2 separate regions of the Homo sapiens genome follow, and region 1 is linked to region 2. Evidence: fine-mapped expression QTL. A gene starts in region 2. The other region holds a variant in brackets. All regions are shown on one strand. Distances are from middle to middle.

Region 1 (9,262 bases), 150 kb before region 2:
AAGGCTCAGATAAGTTAAGAAAAGGGCCCAAGTTGCCCACCAGTAAGTGGCCGGGCCAGGGTTTGAACCCAGGTTAGTGCAAAGCGGAAGCCATTTCTATGTAAATGAATCAATCCATCGAGGCACACTTCTTTAGCCCTGATTATATGCCAGTTAGTTTACTCCAGAACCCCAGCCCTAGCCCCTGCCTTGGTCTGGGCTTTCTTCCAATAATGTTGGCATTTTCACTGAAGGGCCAAGATCTCATCCCTTCCTGGGAGACATTCTATAGACCATATCTCATGGTGACGTCTCAGGCTCTCTGAATTTGCTCTTGTCTTTGTAAAGGAGGAAGCCTTCAAATGCACAGTGAGGGGAGCACTGAGGTTGATACGAAACTCAAGGCACACTTCTGGTGCCATCGTCCATACTGTTACTGAATTCTTTACTGCTAGGAAGGTCTCCAGGGACCAGCCATCTGCTTTTCCTCCCTTCAAGGGCAGGGACTATATCATTCATCTTTGTTTCCTGGGGCTCCGGTCCAGTGCCTGGCATATAATCAGGGCTAAAGAAGTGTGCCTCGATGGATTGATTCATTTACATAGAAATGGCTTCCGCTTTGCACTAATTAAAACCAGAGCAAAGAAGTCTTCCTGACCTCGAGGGCCAATTCATGCTACCAATTATCTAGACATTCAGAGCTGAATTCTTATATATTTAAAACAATTTTAAAAAGTTTTCATTTTCCAGTGTCATATTTTAGGAGTCTATGTGGGGTGTGAACCACTGCATGGAGCTGCAAAGGATCCCACTGGCTTCACCAACAAATATTTGTTGGGTGCATTCTAGATACCAGCTCCTGGGGAGACAAGAATCAACACAAATGAATGGGTCCTCACTCCATGAAACTTACAGTCTAGCAGGAGAGACACGCATTAATCCAATTGTCACACTTTGGATATATAACTGCATAGGGCAAAAAGCACTATGAGGATAAGAAGGAGGGTCAACAACAAAGGAATCTCACTGGCTGGAGAAGGTCAGAGAAAGCCTCCCTGGGGAAGCTTGAGGGGCCATTGGCAGGATGCTGAGGCACTAAGCAGGTGAGGTGGGGCTGGAGAAAGCACCTCAGCTTGTGCAAAGGCCCTGTGGGGGCCTGAAAATAGGCCAGCGTGGCTGCAGCACAAAGCCAAGGGAGGGCAGCAGAGAGAAAGACAGAAGCATAGCCAGGGCCCACCCTAGAGGCCTTCAGGGCCATGCTCAGGATTGTAGGCTACGACCAATGGTGTCACAGAAAGAGCTGAAGCAGTGGCAGAGGAGGAGGGGGGAATAATGGTGCGGGAAACTTTGAATAGGTCACTTGGACTTGATAGTAGAAAAGAGACTGGACAAATGCAAGAGAGGCTACAAGGAGACCTCCAAAGACAGCTGCAGGAGAAGATGGGGCTTAGACCACAGGGGTGGTAGTTAGGGTAGAGGGCAGAAGAGGGATCTGAGAGACACTGGGCAGTGAAATGAATGATCCTGGTGATGGATTAGGGGGACAGTGAGGGAGGGGGAGGCCCACTTCCAGCTTGCAATCTAACTGGGAAGGCTGGGGCACCAGGGGAAGAACTGGGGGGCCACTGAAGGGGGATGAGAAAGCTCAGAGTGGCCAGGAAAGGAAAGTGTGGGTTTGGATTCACAGCTAGGAAATGGGGGAGGTTTATAAGGGGGAGGTACTGGCCTCTCCAAAAGGAGGAAGGGGAAGGGAATTAAAAGCATGAGGCAGGGGGCAAGGGTAGCCTGGCTGGTGCGAGGGTTTCCATGGAGAGAGAAATAAAGGCTGCCAGAAGGGCCAGGGTTCCTCGAGAGCAGCTATTCCCAATGTGTGCTCCTCCACCTCACCAGAAGCATGGGCATCACCAGGGAACCTGTTTGAAATGCAGATTTGGCTGGCAGGGTGGCTCCCGCCTGAAATTCCAGCACTTTGGGAGGTTGAGGCAGGGGAATCACTTGAGGCCAGCAGTTCAAGACCAGCCTAGGAATTTGAGGCTGCAGTGAGCTATGATTGTGCCACGGTACCCAAACCTGGGCGGCAGAGTGAGACCTTGTCTGAAAAAAAAAGAAAAAAGGATGAAATGCAGATTCTCTGGCCCTGACCCAAACCTGATAGATTCAAAACTCTGAGAGTAAGGCTGAGCAATCTGTGTTTTAATAGGATTGTTGAAACAAATTCCAATATATGCTCAAATTTGATAACCACTGCCCTGGACCAGCGCTTCTGAAACATTAATGTGCGTCTGAATCACCTGGGGATCATGTTAAACAGCAAATTCAGATTCAGTCGGTCAGCAGTGGAGCCCTGATTCTGCATCTCTAACCAGCTCCCAGGGGAGACGATACTGCTAGTCCAAGGACCACACTTTGAGTAGCAAGGGTCCAAATCATCCCTTCACCCCATTCTGAGAGGTTAAGGGACTATCCACCTGCTTGCTGGTGACAAATGGGGTCGGTAGCACTCAACATAAGCCAAAACATCCATCTCTCCAGAAACCTGAGAAATGTCATGCTCCTTAACTGAATTTCCTCCACATTAAAGTCCAGCACTGGCGTCTCTCTCGGCAGGGCTGAAAAACCTAATGGCAGATAGAAATAAGCCATTCCCATCCGGTGACCTGGCTGGAGAGGGAGAGGAGGGGAGGGGATTTAAATCCAGAGATCTCTGGACACGTTCACTGAAAGTCACTTTCAAGTTATTCTCGAGCTATTTTAAAATGATTAACCCCTTTCAGAGGGGAGTTTGACTAGCTTCAACTTGGAGTCAGTGCAGGGAAAGCATCTTTGTTCTTTCCTCTCTGTGGCCCAGAAATAGAGGGAAGAAAAAAGGAAACCCCCTTGGCTGCCACAGAAGAGCCTAAAGGACATGAAGCAGCCTGCACATCCAGAGAGTCTCCAAGCGAAGTGAAAGGCACATGTCAACAGGGGACACCAAAGGTAAAACAAACTCAAAAGACAGGATGCAGTTGGTTTTAGCTGACATCCCTTCCTATGAACTCCACACTGTCATACCCTAAACACGAAATCTCCTTCTAAGAATGAAACTTAAAATCTGCCTCTCAGGATGAATTGAATCCTGAATGCCCCTCCATGCTTTTTAAGAGCTACTATGAACTGATTTTTTTCTCTTTTCTTTAAGGGAAAATGTGCAAAGTGGCAAGAATTGAATACATAATTCAAAGACTTTGAGTTGGAGTCTGTGTGGACTCTGGGCAGTACGGTCTCATTTCTGTTTTCTGCTGTTGTCTGCACTGGGAATGTGGAAGGAGAGCATTTTTTTTCCCCCTAGAAAAACAACGCGTCAGCTTTCTTTGTCGGCTTCAGTGACACTAAAGGCATTGCAGTGTTAGCCAAACTGGAGCCAACTGAAGCTTACACACTCCTGAGCAGGAACCAAATCATCGACTGGATCTGACACCTCTTCATTTTCCAACCCCTTCGCATTTCTCTTTTGATTGCTCTTCATATATGTACATGCACTTTTCTGTATTTCATATACATATACACACTGACATCTTACTAGCAATTTTTAGCTCCTTGACACATAATAAAGGCATCCATTCTCAGTGAAATCAGGCCTTCTGTTCAAAGTGTTTTCCCTAGAAAATATGGCAGCTTCTAATTAAATAACTCAATGAGCAGCAGGAAGGGATAATGTGAAATTTAGAGCAGCATTTCAGCTTATATAGCACCCTTCTTGACAAGCAGTACACAGTAGTTGACGGACTTCAGAAAACCAAGCTGTGCTACATTCTCACTGATGTGCTTGGAAAGAAAGGAGGGGAAGAAGGGAAGGAGGGAGGAAGAAAAAAGAAAGAAGGAAGGGAAGAAGGGAAGGAGGGAGGGAAAACAAAGAAAAAGAAGGAAGGGAGGGATGTCTAACACATCCCAGATATACACAGGGCAACACATCACCATTCCCTTGGCATCACCCAGCTGTCAATCTGGTATTTGTGAAAGTGCCCTGTGCTTACGAAAAAGGATAGTGGCCCAGGGCTGTCTAACCTTCCCAAATGACAGACCTAGAACACTCCAAGAGACCATATATTTATAAATATTTGAGAAATGGGGCATTCCCAGTATAACATATACTCACAGGGGTTGTCTTGCAGTGTGGGTGTCTTAATTTATTTTTCCTTCTTTTTTAAAGCCAGCAGCCATAT[CCTGAAGCCACACAGCG/G]TGTTTGAAGAAGGGGTGAGTTAGCCAGCACTCCCAGAGAGATTTGGTTCCTCAGAAAAAGAGTCAAAGATGAGCAGCCATGAAGTTCCTCCATTGGTAAACCCAGCACAGCTGCCACCCAGAGCAAACCAGAATCAGGAGTTCTGTGATTATTTCTTAATGCTGACATGCACGACCCAGTTATTCACATGTAACTCAAGGATTCCAGAGTCAGTAGCATCCTTAAGGAAAAATTTTCTCCTTCTGTGAGTTTAGTTATTTAAGGGCAGGGGTGATGTAACCAATACTAGACACAAGAACAGTCCTCTTGAGGAAGAAGAGAGAGAGGGAGGAGCCATATCAGAAGCAGGAGCACCCTACCAGAAAGCAACCTGCTAGATCAGGGGCTCCTTGTGGTGGCACTGGTGACATTTGAGGCTGGATCATTCTCTGCTGTGGGGGCTGCACTGTGCATTGTAGGAGGTTTAGCAGCATCCTTCACTTCTCCTCACCAGATGCCCCTTTTCTCCAGTTGTGGCAACCAAAAATGTCTCCAGACATTGCCACATGTCCCCTGGGGGTGAGGGAAGAATCACCCTCCCCCACTGCCCTAGACAAAAGCCACAGAAAACAAGAGGAAGCGGTAGAAAAAGTCACCAGACACCAATTAATTTGGGGGTGGGGTTGGGAGCAGAAAGGGAAGAAAAGAATGTGGAGACATAAAGGAACATCTCACAGGTTTCAGCCAGGAAGATCAAACTCAACTTGCAGATAAGACAGTGGGTATAGTCGTGCAACCCACAGACTCGGCGTGATTATGGGTCCCTTTGAAGGGAGCAGCGCTTTTACAGGCAGGCCAAGGGGGCAGTGAAGCCTATTTAAAAAGGGAGCGGCTTGTAGTTTACCAGATATCTTATCAAACTTACTTTAAGAATTCAACGCAGGAAAAAAAATGCCACCCCTGAATGCTCCTTTCCTTAAACTTGGATACTAACAAAACTTCCTGTCAACACGTAGGAGCCTGAAGTGATTAAAGCAAAAGGGAGCACTCCCTCTATTGTGTCTGCTTCTAATCCTCAGAGAATTTTTCTTTTAGACACACATACAAACAACTTGGGATTTGTTGATGCTAACTGCAGAGGGGTTTACGCAAGGAGGGGCGGGGGCTGCTCAGACCACAAAATGAAAGGGGAAATAGAAGCAAAGAGAGAGAGGGCCTGAGAAAGTTTCCTTCCCCAGCTTCCAGTCAAGAGGGCTGGCACAGTGCTCAAGGGCATTTGGCGTCAGTCACTGGACTGCTCCCTGAAATGCCCTGAAGGGGCAGAGCCAGGGAAGCTGGCAGGGCCCTCTCTGCCTTTTTCACTTGGGAGCCCAAGTCAGCCAAAGAAAAGCTATGTGCCACCTTTATCATGCAACAAAAGCCACTGCAGAGCCCTCCAAGGCTCCAATGCACTTAATAAAGGCTAACTAAATAAACAAAGAACAAGTCCTGAGAACATAAAACTCTTCACACCTGGGTACCCTCTTTATTACAGACTCCAGTTTAGCAAGAACCCGGCAAGCTCTGACCTTACCTTGGAAACAAGCCCAACAGGGTGAACTGGTCACAGAAGGCAAAACTGGACACATCTTCCCACCTTCAACCCCCAGAGGAAAATGTCTGTTCTGTGCTCCAGACTATTTTTGCTGGGGGTATTTTATTTAAATTCCTTCACTTGATTATATGTTTTGCACAAGTATCTGAAGTTTTGTTCATTTTGTTGTCAAATGAATCTTCCTGCTTCACTTCTAAGTGAGGTTGAGGACCTCAAGTGACATATGCATTCATGATAATAATAACAGCAACATTTATAGAGCTCTTACTACATGCGAGTTCAAAGCACTTGAAATAGATTAGCTCATTAAATCTCAACTGAAGTCTTATTTTTACTTTCTGCAATTATAAATGATCTGTATCTCTTTTCCTCCTCCCCTACAAATTCTCCCAAACCCAGAAATGCGCATAGAAATAATAGCCAGTCACGTATTAGTTGATCTCTCTGCTAGATTGTCAAAATGGCTGCAATCATTCCCCTTTCGGTATCTCCCCATCCATTTGCAATGAGACCTTGTAAGCCCTCCCATCGAGAGGTGGAGTCTATTTCTCAAACCCTTGAATCTGGGTTTGGTTCTGTGACTTGCTTTGGCCAATGCAATTCAGAAGTGGCACTGTCTGAGTTCCAAGCCTGGATCTCGAAAGGCCTTGCGCACTTCTGCTCGCATGCTCAGAATTCCGTGATCACCATATGAACAAGCCCAGGCTGGCCTGCTAGACGATAAGAGGACACTGCCAGGGGGAACATCCCAGATGAGGCCAATCTAGATCAGCTAGGCCTCAGCTGACCTATCACTGATTGTGGACACATGCGCTAGCCCAGCTACAACCACCTGGCCTGGCCTAGCCCAGACTGGAACAACCACTGAGCTCAACCACAGACTAAGATATATGTTTGTTGTTCAGCGCCACTAAATTTTGGGGTAGTTTGTTTTCTAGCAAAGGTGTAACATTCAAAGCATTAACTATACTCTTTTAACCTTGTGATTCTCCAATATGGAGTTACAATATGCAATGTTTTTGAAACTTCTTTGACCATGAACTTAACTCTCCCTTTTCTCTCTTCTGTGTGTATACACACATGCACATTCCAAGGAACACACACACTAGGGAAAGGCTGCTCTAGATCACTCATCACAGGAGTAACTAGCATTGGTTCATCTGTAAGTTTTATGAAAAACAGCTGCTTTTCCTTCATGTCCGCTTATAGCTTTTGGTGCTGTTCTGAAAACATTAACCTTAATGGCAACTGTAACAACCAGTGTTATAACAACATATAAGAGCTGAGAAACCTCCCAAACATCCCCCATTAGTCCTTTGTTCTTACTATGGGCTATAAAGAGCTATTTAAAAAGACAAAAATCAAAACCAAGAACTTAATATTCTAGGCCCACTAAAACAATAATCAGAGGTTTCTCCCATAAAAACCCCTTCCACTGTAGTAAAAAAAAAAAAAAAAAAAAAGAAAAGAAAGAAAAAAGAAAACAAAAACAAAACAGTAAATTGCTGCAAAAAATAGACAAAAATGAACTGGCTAGAAACTGATTAAGGATTCGTTTTGAACCAAAATCAATAAAGAAAAAAACAAAATTCCAAGCAATGCCATTCACTGCTTTAACATTCCAAAAAGAACTCCCACACAAGTATTTTGAAACATTCCTGGAAATTCATGTTTTACTTAATTCATCTGCTTCCAATAGCTGGTTTTCCTTTTTAGTCCAACCATCCTTCTCAGAATTCAAACAATCTCTCTAATTTCATCCCTTTCTCTGGAGCAGGGTTCAGATGGTGAGAAGATATTATTATTGCTATCATCATGATCAGGTTTCTGTTGATCAACACTGTGTAAAAGAACCAGGTGCAATTTTCCAGCAGATGCCACAAAAATAAATGATAACATATGCAACCAACATCCTACCATTTTTTTGTAAAGTATTTAAAAACTTATTTGAAAGTTATCTAGTAAAAAATAAGTATTTCCAAAATGAGTTACTACATGTGTCAAAACATACACCCAACAGAACAGGACTGCTTCAAAAGAGCTGTCAGTCAGAGTCCAAGGAGGAAATCAAGGCCCTTCCTCCCTGTGAGCTCAGCTACTAAGATCGGCAGGCTTAGTATGCCTTCCCACCCAATCAAAGACTATTTTGGACTAACAAATATAGAAGGGATGATGGATGAAACCATTAGAGTAAATCATTATCCAGGCAAGAATCCTCAATGAATGCTAAAGCTAGGTGGAGAGAGTTTGATGAGGAATGGGATATTTACATAATGTCAAAATATCTTCCAACAAATTATATTTGTTCATTACAAAAGGAAAAAGAACAGCTACACAGACACCAGCTTAACTAATCAAATGTGACCTCACCAACAAGGGCCAAATGGACATCTGTGCCTCCTGATATGGTCCCCAGAGAACAAATCACTTACATGCCTATATAGCATTCCAACTGAAAAATGCCTAAATCCAAATGTAAATGTGAAGAAACATCAGAGAAACCAAAATTAAGGAACATTCTATAAAACAACTGGCTGGTATTCTTCAAAAATGTCAAGGCCACTGAAGACAAAGGAAGAGTTATGAACTGTTCTTGATTAACGGGGACAAAAGAGACAGGACAACTAAATGCAATGTGGGATCCAGGACTAGATTGTGAACCTTAAGAAAATTGTGATAAAGGGCATTATTGGGACACAGGTTACATAAAAGTATGAAATAAATATTATATTTTCTAAATTTGATAGCTGTACATATACAAGAGAATATTCTCATTCTTGGGAAATGCAAGGGGTAAAGGGAGTTTGATGACAGCTGCCTACTCCTAAATGGTTCAGCAAAAAAATTCACATATATATGAACATGAATTAGTGTGGGGGAGAGAAGGGATAAATGCAACAAAATATGAACAATTAGTGAATCTAGATAAAGGTATACAAGAGTTATTTACACTATTCTTGCACCTGTCCTGTAAGTTTTAATTATTTCAAAATAAAAAGTGAAACAAGCAAACATCACCAAATGCGGAGCTTGCTATGGGTGGATAAGGGTAAGGGCAAGACAAAATTGTACCCCCGAGTAGTCAATATGCAGCAGAGAGCCAGCTCTCTTCCCAGCTGCCCTTCATAGCACTGTCCAGAGTATTCCCCAGAATGGACCCCCTCTTAGCTTCTTTTGAGATGAAGCTTTTGTGACCACAGGCCCCTGGCACTCCAGGATGCTGCAGGCCTTGAAAGAAAACCAAAACCACTTCGGGCCATGGTTCAACTCTTTATGAACATTTTCTTCCTGCAGGTTTTCCACTGTGGTGGTTGGAGGTCTTATTTCTTTTGCCGGCACTGTTGGGAGAGAAAGACAAGACTGGGCTTTTATTGAGGTGTGAGGGACCTGGGAAGCCAAGAAACACAAGCAGGGACTCACAGGTTCCAAGATGAGCTTTTGGGGTATTTACTGGATGCCGCCCTATCTGTTTTCCCTCTTCTGTGTAGAGA
Region 2 (9,262 bases):
ATCTCAAACTTAACATGGCTCAAATATAAAACTATTGATTCCATTCCCTCCACAAGAAAATATTCACTCTCCCACTAGCCTTCCCCATTTCTACAAATGGTAATACATTCTACCAGTTATTATTATTACTATTATTTTGAGATGAAGTCTCACTCTTGTTGCCCACGCTGGAGTGCAATGGCGCGATCTTGGCTAACTGCAACCTCTGCCTCCCGGATCCAAGCATTTCTCCTGCCTCAGCCTCCCAAGTAGCTGGGATTACAGGCGCCTGCCACCACGCCTGGCTAATTTTTGTATTTTTAGTAGAGACGGGGTTTCACCATGTTGGCCAGGCTGGTCTCGAACTCCTGACCTCAGGCGATCTGCCCGCCTCGGCCTCCCAAAGTGCTGGGATTACAGGCGTGAGCCACCGTGCCCAGCCACAGTCTACAAGTTATTTAAGCTTTTCAAGCAAAAACAACAAACTAGGAGTCATCCTAAATTATTTTTTTTTTCCACAACCTGTACCCAATCAAATCAGTTAAGTCTTGGCAATCCTATTTCCAAAATGCATTCAGAATCTAACCACTTCTCACCGTCTCTACAGCTACCTCCCTAGTCCTAGCCACCATCACCAGTCACAGTGTCTAACTGGTTTACTAGCCACCAGACTTGCTTCCAGAGTGACTCTTCCAAAGTGTACATCAGATCATGTTGCCCCTGCAAGAAGCCCCCCAGCCTGTCTCAGGGCAACAGGAAGCAGCTGTCCAAGGATGAAATAGCAAGCAGATTACGCAGGGGAATGAGGATCAGGTGACAAGGATATACAGGTGGTGTGAAGGCACTCTCAAAGGAAGAGAAAAAAGAGTAAGTTTTACTTTTAGGCTTCCTCTCCCTTTCAAACTCCCCTAGGCCTGAGCAATACTAAAGGGAGATAGATGCATAATGCAGCTGATGCCGCTAGTGACCGACCCACAGCTACTTTGCCCTCCCCAGAGGACCTCTGTCAACATTCCTGTGCACATCATAGGCTTTTTGCATCTCTCTACCTGGCCCTGGGTGCATGCTGGGACTACATGTGGGGCAAGACCCAGAAGCCATGGAGTTCATGCTCCAGGTGCTACCTTCCATCTGTGGGAAGAAGAAGCTGGTGCATAAATACTCCAGCTTCTTTAATCATTAGTGGAACACATTTGAGGTGTGTGCTCAGAGGGTCGCCAGCTGGATTGAACCCCAGTTGCCCACAGGGCTAACCAGCTTACATGGTGTACTGGCTTTCCTCTTTCCTCCCTTTCCTGTCTCACTTCCCTACCCCCTCTCTGTGCTTCCAGGGAACCCTTCCCAAATAAGTTAATTGCATCGAAATCCTTGTCTCAGGCTCTGCATTCTAGGAAACCTAAACCAAGACACATAATAGTGTGTTTTTTCTCCCAAAGGTAATGCCTTTTATGACATCAAACAAAAACAATGCCATCCCAAATTTAAATGAACAAGAGAAGAGAGAGATCTGGACATAAAGTGTGGAGATAGCATTTTAGAAAATAAAATTTAAAATAATATGAGATTTTAAATCTATCCCAGGTAGAAATCAGCCCCATCTTTATTATTCATGTACAAATATGTATAGAGTATATATTCACCAACTATATGCACACACTCAAGATCCTCTCTTATCTCTACTAACTATTAGTTTGTACCCCAAACAGTTAAAAGGACTTGAAAGAACTCTGACACGTTCCAGGTACATAACTGCCCACTGCTGCATCTAAAGAGAGAAAGAAGTGGGCACATTCTGCTCTGGCAGTGAGTTTCATTCGCGTGAAATCTAACTTAAGGAGAGGTGTGTCTCACACACACACACACACACACACACACGGGAAATGTATGCACCACTCAACAGTCTGCAAAACTTCCCTCCAGTTCTTTTGAAGTGAAATCACCACTCCCACAACCGCACTCCCCAGATACCTGCGCTGTTGAAAGTGAAGGGCCTGTCCCTGCTGTGTGGTTTGGGGTAAAAAGGAGGCAGGATTAAAGCGCTCATTTCAAGTCCCAAAAGTAAAATACGACTTGGCCTACGGCAGTCCTAATTCTTTCCAGAACTCATCCCCGGAATTGCCCTTTTAAACAACCAGTCATTAACCCAACTCCGGGTCTTTTATAGCTGCGAAAACCGATCGAGCACATCATTTATTCATTACGCTTATTACTATTGTTATTGCAGAAAAGCAGTGAATTCCCGGGACGGGGTTCAAAGGGTTTTTCGGAGGAGGAGGGGAAGAGGGAGAGAACACGCGGGCGGGCAGGGACCGCTGGGAGGCTGAGCTGGGCTGTGGGGCAGAGGTGCCCGGAAATCCCCAGGGAAGGATGCCTCCAAAGCGCCTCCGCCCCGCGCGCTCCTAGGCCACTGCGCACCGGCGCAGCTGCGGCAGCAACCTAGGAAGCTTCTTACGTAAGTCAGAGCCGCTGACATCACCTTCGCCGCGAGCGTCGCAGCCTGACTAGGCGCCAAAGGACCGTCGCGCCAACCCAGCGCCCCTGTCTACCTCCTGGGTCGTTCCTAAATGATTCTGCCGTCGCCAGATTTGGACGATCCGGAGCCAAGGGGACCGCCCTTGGAAGGGAGATGACATAGAATGACTATTTATTGGGAGCCCTTGGGTGTCGTAAAAGCGAAGTCAACGGACAGCAAAGACGCCCAGGGGTCTCCCAGACTTCCTTCCTCGTCGTTTCCCTGCAGCCCGCCTAGCAGACTAGTTCATACCTAAGTCCACGTGCCAGTAAATTTGGGCGACAGTGCACCGGGGAGGAGGAAGATAGTCTGTGGGATCCTCTGCGGGCAGATGGCACAGAGCCATTTAGTAGGAACCCTGGGCTGTTCAGAGCAGAAAAGATGCCCAGGGGTCTCCTCCATCTCCCCGGGGCCCCTGACACTCCCACCCTCATCTCTCCCTGACCCTCCCCGCGGCCCCTCCGGGCCACAAGGGTTTTCGGCAGAAGCACTACGAAGTTCAGTCTAGGAGGCGAGCAGCGCCACGCTACGTCGCACACGAGGGCAAGGCACAAGTTCGGAGCTCGGGGCAGCACCTGAGGTCACAGCGAGTGACGAAACAGCCGCGGTGCTGCAGCAGTCTCAAAAGAACACTCACTACTCCTGGAACCCCCAACCCTGAACATGCATGGTGTGGGCTACAGGGCTCAGGGCTGGGCTTCTGGAAACCACAGGAGTTGCAACCCTCCTCCCTACGCCCCGTGAAGGACGTGAAAGGCGAGCCCCGGTGGTGAAGGACAGACCCTCTCTGCCTCCTGTGCTCCCCATAAACGCTCCCTTTCTGCTCCTTCTCAGCCCACGCTGCCTGCGACTTCAGAGGTCGCCCTTTTAACTTTCCACCGTCCACGTCTGCATCACTGAATCGGGGTCCAGCCCAGCCACTCAGCCCCAGGAGGATTGGGGTGGGTCCCAGGGGATGGGAAGGGTGGGAAGGCGAGAGTAGTAAGGTGCAAGCTGCAACCGGAGCGGCGCCGCGGGGCTGGGATTGCCGCTGCTGGGGAGGGCGCGAGGGTGCGGCGCAGAAACCCATAGCCTGGCGGGCGGACGGCGCGGGTACTCACGCACTGCCTCCTGCTTAGGGTCAAGCGTGCTGAGGACGCGCTGCACGCCGCCGAGCTTGCCCTGCAGCGCCCAGACGCGGCGGTGGGTGAGCTGGATGTCGCTCTCGAGCTCCTGGAAGAGGCTGCAAGCGTGCCGGGCCACGTCCGAGAGCTGCCGGAGGACACGGGCCAGAGCGGCGTTGCTGACCGCGCATAGGTCCAGCATGAGCAGCACGGCCGCCGCCGCCGCCGCCGAGGACGCCTCGCCGGCTGCGGGCGCCGCCTCCGGGATCCCCGCCGTGCTCTCCTCGCCAGCCACGGACGCCTCTCCGTGCGGCGGCTGAGTCTGGTCGGCCGGCGCGGGCAGTGGCGGCGGCGGCGGTGGCAGCCCTGAAGGTGCAGGGACGGCGCGGGCTGGCTCCTCTGGCCCTGGCGCCTCGACCTCGTCCAGGTCCCTCCGGCCCGGCGGCTGCAAGGGCGGCGGCGGCTCAGCGCTGCCTCCGCTCGCGTCCACTGCTGGGCCGGGCGCAGGGCGCCGCTGCCTGCACAGCCATTGCGGCTCCACGATCCGCTTGGCGAAAGGCATCCCGCGCAGCCAGGCGGCGACTTTCTGGTCTCCTCCAAGCGCCCCTGTGAGCTGGAGACCGGGCGCGCCCACCTGAGCAGGGAGGGGGCAGGAGTCCGGCAAAAGCGCGATCTGGCAGTCCGGATACGCAGGGGGCTTCTCTGCTCACCTTGCCTCCTCTTCCCCGCCCTCTCCCTAGCAAATCAGTCCAGCCAGTCCTCCTTTGGGTGCACCGTTCCCTGGGGAGGATGACAAGCGCTCCGCACAGAAATTTAGGGGTGCGCCTGGTCTCTTCTCACTTGCTTCCAACCAGGGTCGACTGGCTCAACTCCATCGTTTCTGTGCTCGCCGTCGCCACCCCGGCCACTGCCGTCGCCGCCGCCTATATAAATGGGCGTGCGTGTGTCTGTGTGTGTGTGGGTGAGTGGGTGGGTGGGTGTGAGTGTGTGCGCGCGCCTCAGTTTGAAAGTACCCCGGCGCAGGCCTCTCCCCGCGCGCCCCTCGGCCGCTCCGGGGAGCGATTGCGCCCGGGATCTCTCTCCCTGGCTGGGCGGGGAGGAGGTTTCGGAAAGGCGCTCTGAAAACCCGGAGAGAGGAATCTGCCTCCAGCCCGGGCGCAGGAGGCCGCGCGGGGGTGACGGGGCGGACGCAGGGCGGGGGAGGCCGGGGCGAGGGGGGCGCAGCGCCCTGTGCGGCCGCTGGGAGTCACTGGTGGCCTCGCCGTGCTGGGCGCGTTCAGGCGCAAAGACACTTCCTCACATCCAAGGGGTTGGAATTGAGACTGTCAGCGTGGTGGGGGCGGGGAGTCCTCAAGTTGGGAGTAGGGGTGTGGGCAGTAAGCGCAGAGGGAAGAGGGTGGGGTATTGAGGATGCGGCAGATTTGGCGTGTTGGAGCAAGTTTTTCGCCGAATTCCAGCTCTGTACAAGACCTTTGGGTTCTTACAGGGAAAACTGGGCTGCTCCTTGGAGATCCCCGGGCTCTATGAACGCAAGGAGACAACTGGGGAGGGCAAAGGGCGTAGGCGCATCTCCATGTGGCCAGAGCAGCCAGAGTGCTGTTTATACCCCTTCCCAGGCATCACGTGGCCCCCTGTTTTGGGCACGGGCTCTATAGAATATCGTGAATGAGACCCAAACCACCAATGAGCAAAATCCCCAGAAAACTGCTTACGAAACTCATTGCACGTTGGGTGAGATAAACGGCATTACCTCCTCGTCACCCTACTGTGCTGATCATACACAGGATTTTTAAAGTTCTCCATCAGAGAGATGATGATTTACAGAAGAAGGGAAAGTTTTCCCCTTCAGTTAACTGAAAGGTATAATTTCTAAAAAGGCATGCATTTTCGATTGCAGCAGGCTGCAGGCTGTATGCCGTCAGTAAAAAGAGTTTGGGAAATGTTAATAAAACACGTGCTTTCATGCCTCCAAAAAGTATACTGTAAAAATATTTTTTATTTTAAAGCCACAAGCCAGATCTTGGGAATGCAGCCTCTTTTCGTGTTTCTAAAGAGAACATGGAAAAAATATGTTTTATGGCAACAATAAAGTCCTCCAGACCTGCGGTGGTGTCTCCTCTCCTCCCTCTAAAGGCGGGAGAGGGAGGAGGCTCCAACAGTCAGCACTTTGGACTGGCCCACGCTTTGGTTTTAAAGGCTTCAACAGACCCTTGTCTTATTCTACAAAACAAAAAAAAAAAAACAAAAAAAAACCAAAATTTTCGGCAAGGACATATCCTTGTTCATAAAAGATCCAGGCTGAGGCTTTGGGGGTAAAGGGCCATGATGTCTGCAAAGTACACATAAATGTTTCAGTAACAACAAGAAGAAGAATGATGATAATAAAGATGTGTATGTATGAAGGGAGAAAAAAACAAAATATGGCAAAATGTTCAAAATAGTCTAGGTTAAGGGCATATCAGGGTTCATTGTACATTTCTTGCAACTTTAAATTTGGTTTTGTTTCCAAATAAAAAATGAAAGAAAAGAATATTTTGGAACAAGGTCTTTTAAGGTTTGTTTTTTATCTCACAAATCTGAAAAGCGTTGAGCTAGCTGTTTTTAAATTGAGCTTGACTTTTTAATACGTTCAAAATTCTGAACATGAGTTCTGCTGGGTAGGCAAGCCAGACACTTCTCCCTAAACACATGGAAGCATGGAGAACAATGAGGGATATTAAAGGCATCTGGTTAGCAAGCCTTGTGGCAACAGGCTGCCCTGCCTCTCACTCTCCCTTACCTAGCACTGTCCTATTAATAGCAAGGGTGCCAGTGGAGCGGGCCCATCTGAGCATTGACAGGGGCAATGAATAAGTGGTGTGGGACTCTCACTCCTAAAGGGAGTTTCAGATTATTGGCAAGTTCCTTCCAGGGCTCCCAAAATAAGTGATCAGAAAGGAAGGGCAAAGGCCCAGGAGAGAAAGGGTTCAAGGGGGTAATTAAGCTAAAAAACAGGCCAGCTACCTTAGTGTCTGCCCCCAAGTGATCAGCTCAGATTCAAGCCGAGATTTCAAAATGATTCAAAGCACAGTTCAAGGATGCAAAAAGGAGTGCCCTCTTTGTAATCTCCTTGACTCTGACTTGTGTGCTAATAAAGCCCTTTGGTTAAAATTTTAAAAACCTTTAATTTTGGCTTTTGATCTCCTTCATTCTCGCTGTCCCCTCCCCTTCCTTTGGTGGTGGTCCCCAGTGACCTTTCCAAGAGCACATTACGTTTTTGTTTTTGTTTTTGTTTTTGTTTTTGTTTTTGTTTTATTTGGGGAGAAAGACACCCTCCTTCAAAGTCACCAAAACCAAACCTAATACAAATGATCATATTCATTGATATGGTTGGTTGATGTTTTCCCAGTCCTCTGTAAGATATGAATAAAGGTATCTTTAGAAAATGTAACGATTGTTTTACATTAGTGACACCATCTAAATAAAAAACTGCTAGCTTTGGGAAGGCAGCTTCAAGACAGCCTGCTGGCCCCATCCTACCCTTTTCCCAACTCAAGTCCCTCCCATGTGAATTACCCCCACACACACACCCCTACACACATTTTTGGGTTTTATTCCTGCTTTCTAGAACTAAAATACTGAAATTTTAAAAAGGGTAGCAACACATGTAATCCTGACAGGACATGTGAATAGTCTTAAGCTGATGAGTTTTCAGCATACGTGGGAGCTGTGTCTTTCTTGTTTAAATCCTGAATTGTGACATTTTACTCCAAATTTTCCCACAAAAAGTTCTGATGAAGTCAAGGTTGCTTTCTAAAGCCAGGTTGTTACACCTGATTGTTACACCAGATTGTTATGTGTGTGTTGATCTCTCCCAATCACACCGCCTCCCCACTATTCATGTACACATGTTTATTTACCGTGCACTTGTAGCCAAAATAGAAGGGAAAGGAAACATTTTTAAATGGCCCCATCGCCTAATTCCCAGCAGTCATTCATGCAGCTCAAAGGCCAGCACAATTCGCCCATAAATTCAAATGTTTAGTCAGTATAAACTGTATGCCATTGTAAAATGAATGAAAGATCCTGTCTGTGTCACCACGCCCCACAGTTACATTCTTGCCTGCTCCAGCCCAGAAGGAAGAAGGGCTTTGCTGAACTTGAAGATTGGCATTGAGAGCACCGTGAAGCGCCACTGTCCTCAACCTGGCTGTCCTCATGCCTCCACGGAACCCTAGTCAGGCTTCCTATAGAACCTCACAAGCGGCAAAGCAGAGATTCCTAAAACACTCTTCGCTAAAAATGTTCTGATTTGAATATCCTACCATTATTTATACTTGAAAATATTTCTTTTGGCTAAGAAATGCCAGGAGATACACGGGGCACATTAGCATAATCATTGAATTATAGTGACTGAAGTGTCTTTTCCTCCACCTAATTGAACCTATTCCTCATTTAATCAATGTAATCTACTCCTAAAAAGTCCTGCCACTAAGTAAAAACCTGTTAAATAAAAAATATTTGCATTAATTTTATTGGAAAAAATTATGAGCATTCCATCCCAACTTAAGTTACTTAAACCATTTCACAGATAGAAAACTATAGCAAGTTTACATAGGTGAAGGGCTACAATTTGAAAGTAAATAAATATAGTTTGTACATAAAATGCAATGTTATAATATCTCATGAAGGAAGAAGAGCAGATTTGAAATTGGGTGGTGAGGAGTGGAGGAGGGTGAGGTTGTCATTCTTGGGAAATCGTTGGAGAGTCATGTGGTTCACAATGAAGCAGAAAACTTTTTCGAGCTCATGGCTATACTACACTTAAACTGCACTTACAAATAAAGTTACAGTACAGAACAACACCTTAAGGGAAAAATAAAGGATAAACTTCAGAGAGCCTTAAAACATATGGAAAGAGCTCATACACATAGCCGACTGAAGGGTCACAGAAAGATGTTACTCACTCCTCTCTCTCCCACACCAGGAGGCCACCATTGTCAGGCTTTCCAAGAGTTTCTGCAAAGTTTAATGTTAGTTGCTGAGCTCTGAGAGTCCCCAAATCCCTCTTTCCTTTAGTTTTGCTGGCTCATGGGAGGAAGTTCACAGCCCATGGTGGTATGCCATCTTGAATGAGGAAGCATGCATTCTTCCATATGTGTGGTTTATGATGTCCAAAGCCTTCATAGCTTACTTTTTGCAACTCTAAAGTCCAAGTTCTTCCAGTTCAGGAACTTTGAATGTGGCTTTGTGTACAGGTATTCCCATGAAACACTGGGAGAGAAACATATTCATTAATACATCAAAATATTAATCCACCATACACATAAATATATTTACACATATATTGATAACTACCATATGTATAGTTTCGAGGGAGAAAAAAGACTATATACTACCATTGAAGGTTTTCCCTTGTTTCAGCTTGTGCTTTTCTTCCTTAAAAATCTTCATTTAGTCTATCAAGTGTGAAGGACAGGGGTTTCTCTCTGCATTTTATTGATAGGAAAACATGGGCAGAAAAAATAATGCTATTAAAATGGTTTTCCCAAAATGCCAAAGACTGTGAATACAAAGACTATGCCAACCAGCCTTTTTATCTTCCTTTGCAGAGAACTGTTGATTACTCACATTGTTTCCTGTGGGAGAAATTCTTACTTCTTTCTAATCTTCAAAAATCCTAGCCTCA

Evidence for each region.
Region 1: its variant is fine-mapped to the expression of NHS in whole blood (TOPMed, PIP 0.91).

What each region holds. Positions count from the first base shown.
Region 1 is chrX:17,523,611-17,532,872 of GRCh38, reverse strand. The region is part of intron 1 of NHS (NHS actin remodeling regulator); the gene reads right to left. LOC101928389 (a long non-coding RNA gene) reads right to left here and starts at 4,438. Exons shown (of 2, transcript NR_135631.1): 1 at 4,115-4,438. The variant CCTGAAGCCACACAGCG/G (reference allele first, on the strand shown) is at 4,182.
Region 2 is chrX:17,370,652-17,379,913 of GRCh38, reverse strand. It overlaps NHS (NHS actin remodeling regulator), which reads right to left and starts at 4,714. Exons shown (of 9, transcript NM_001291867.2): 1 at 3,592-4,714. The coding sequence starts at 4,156.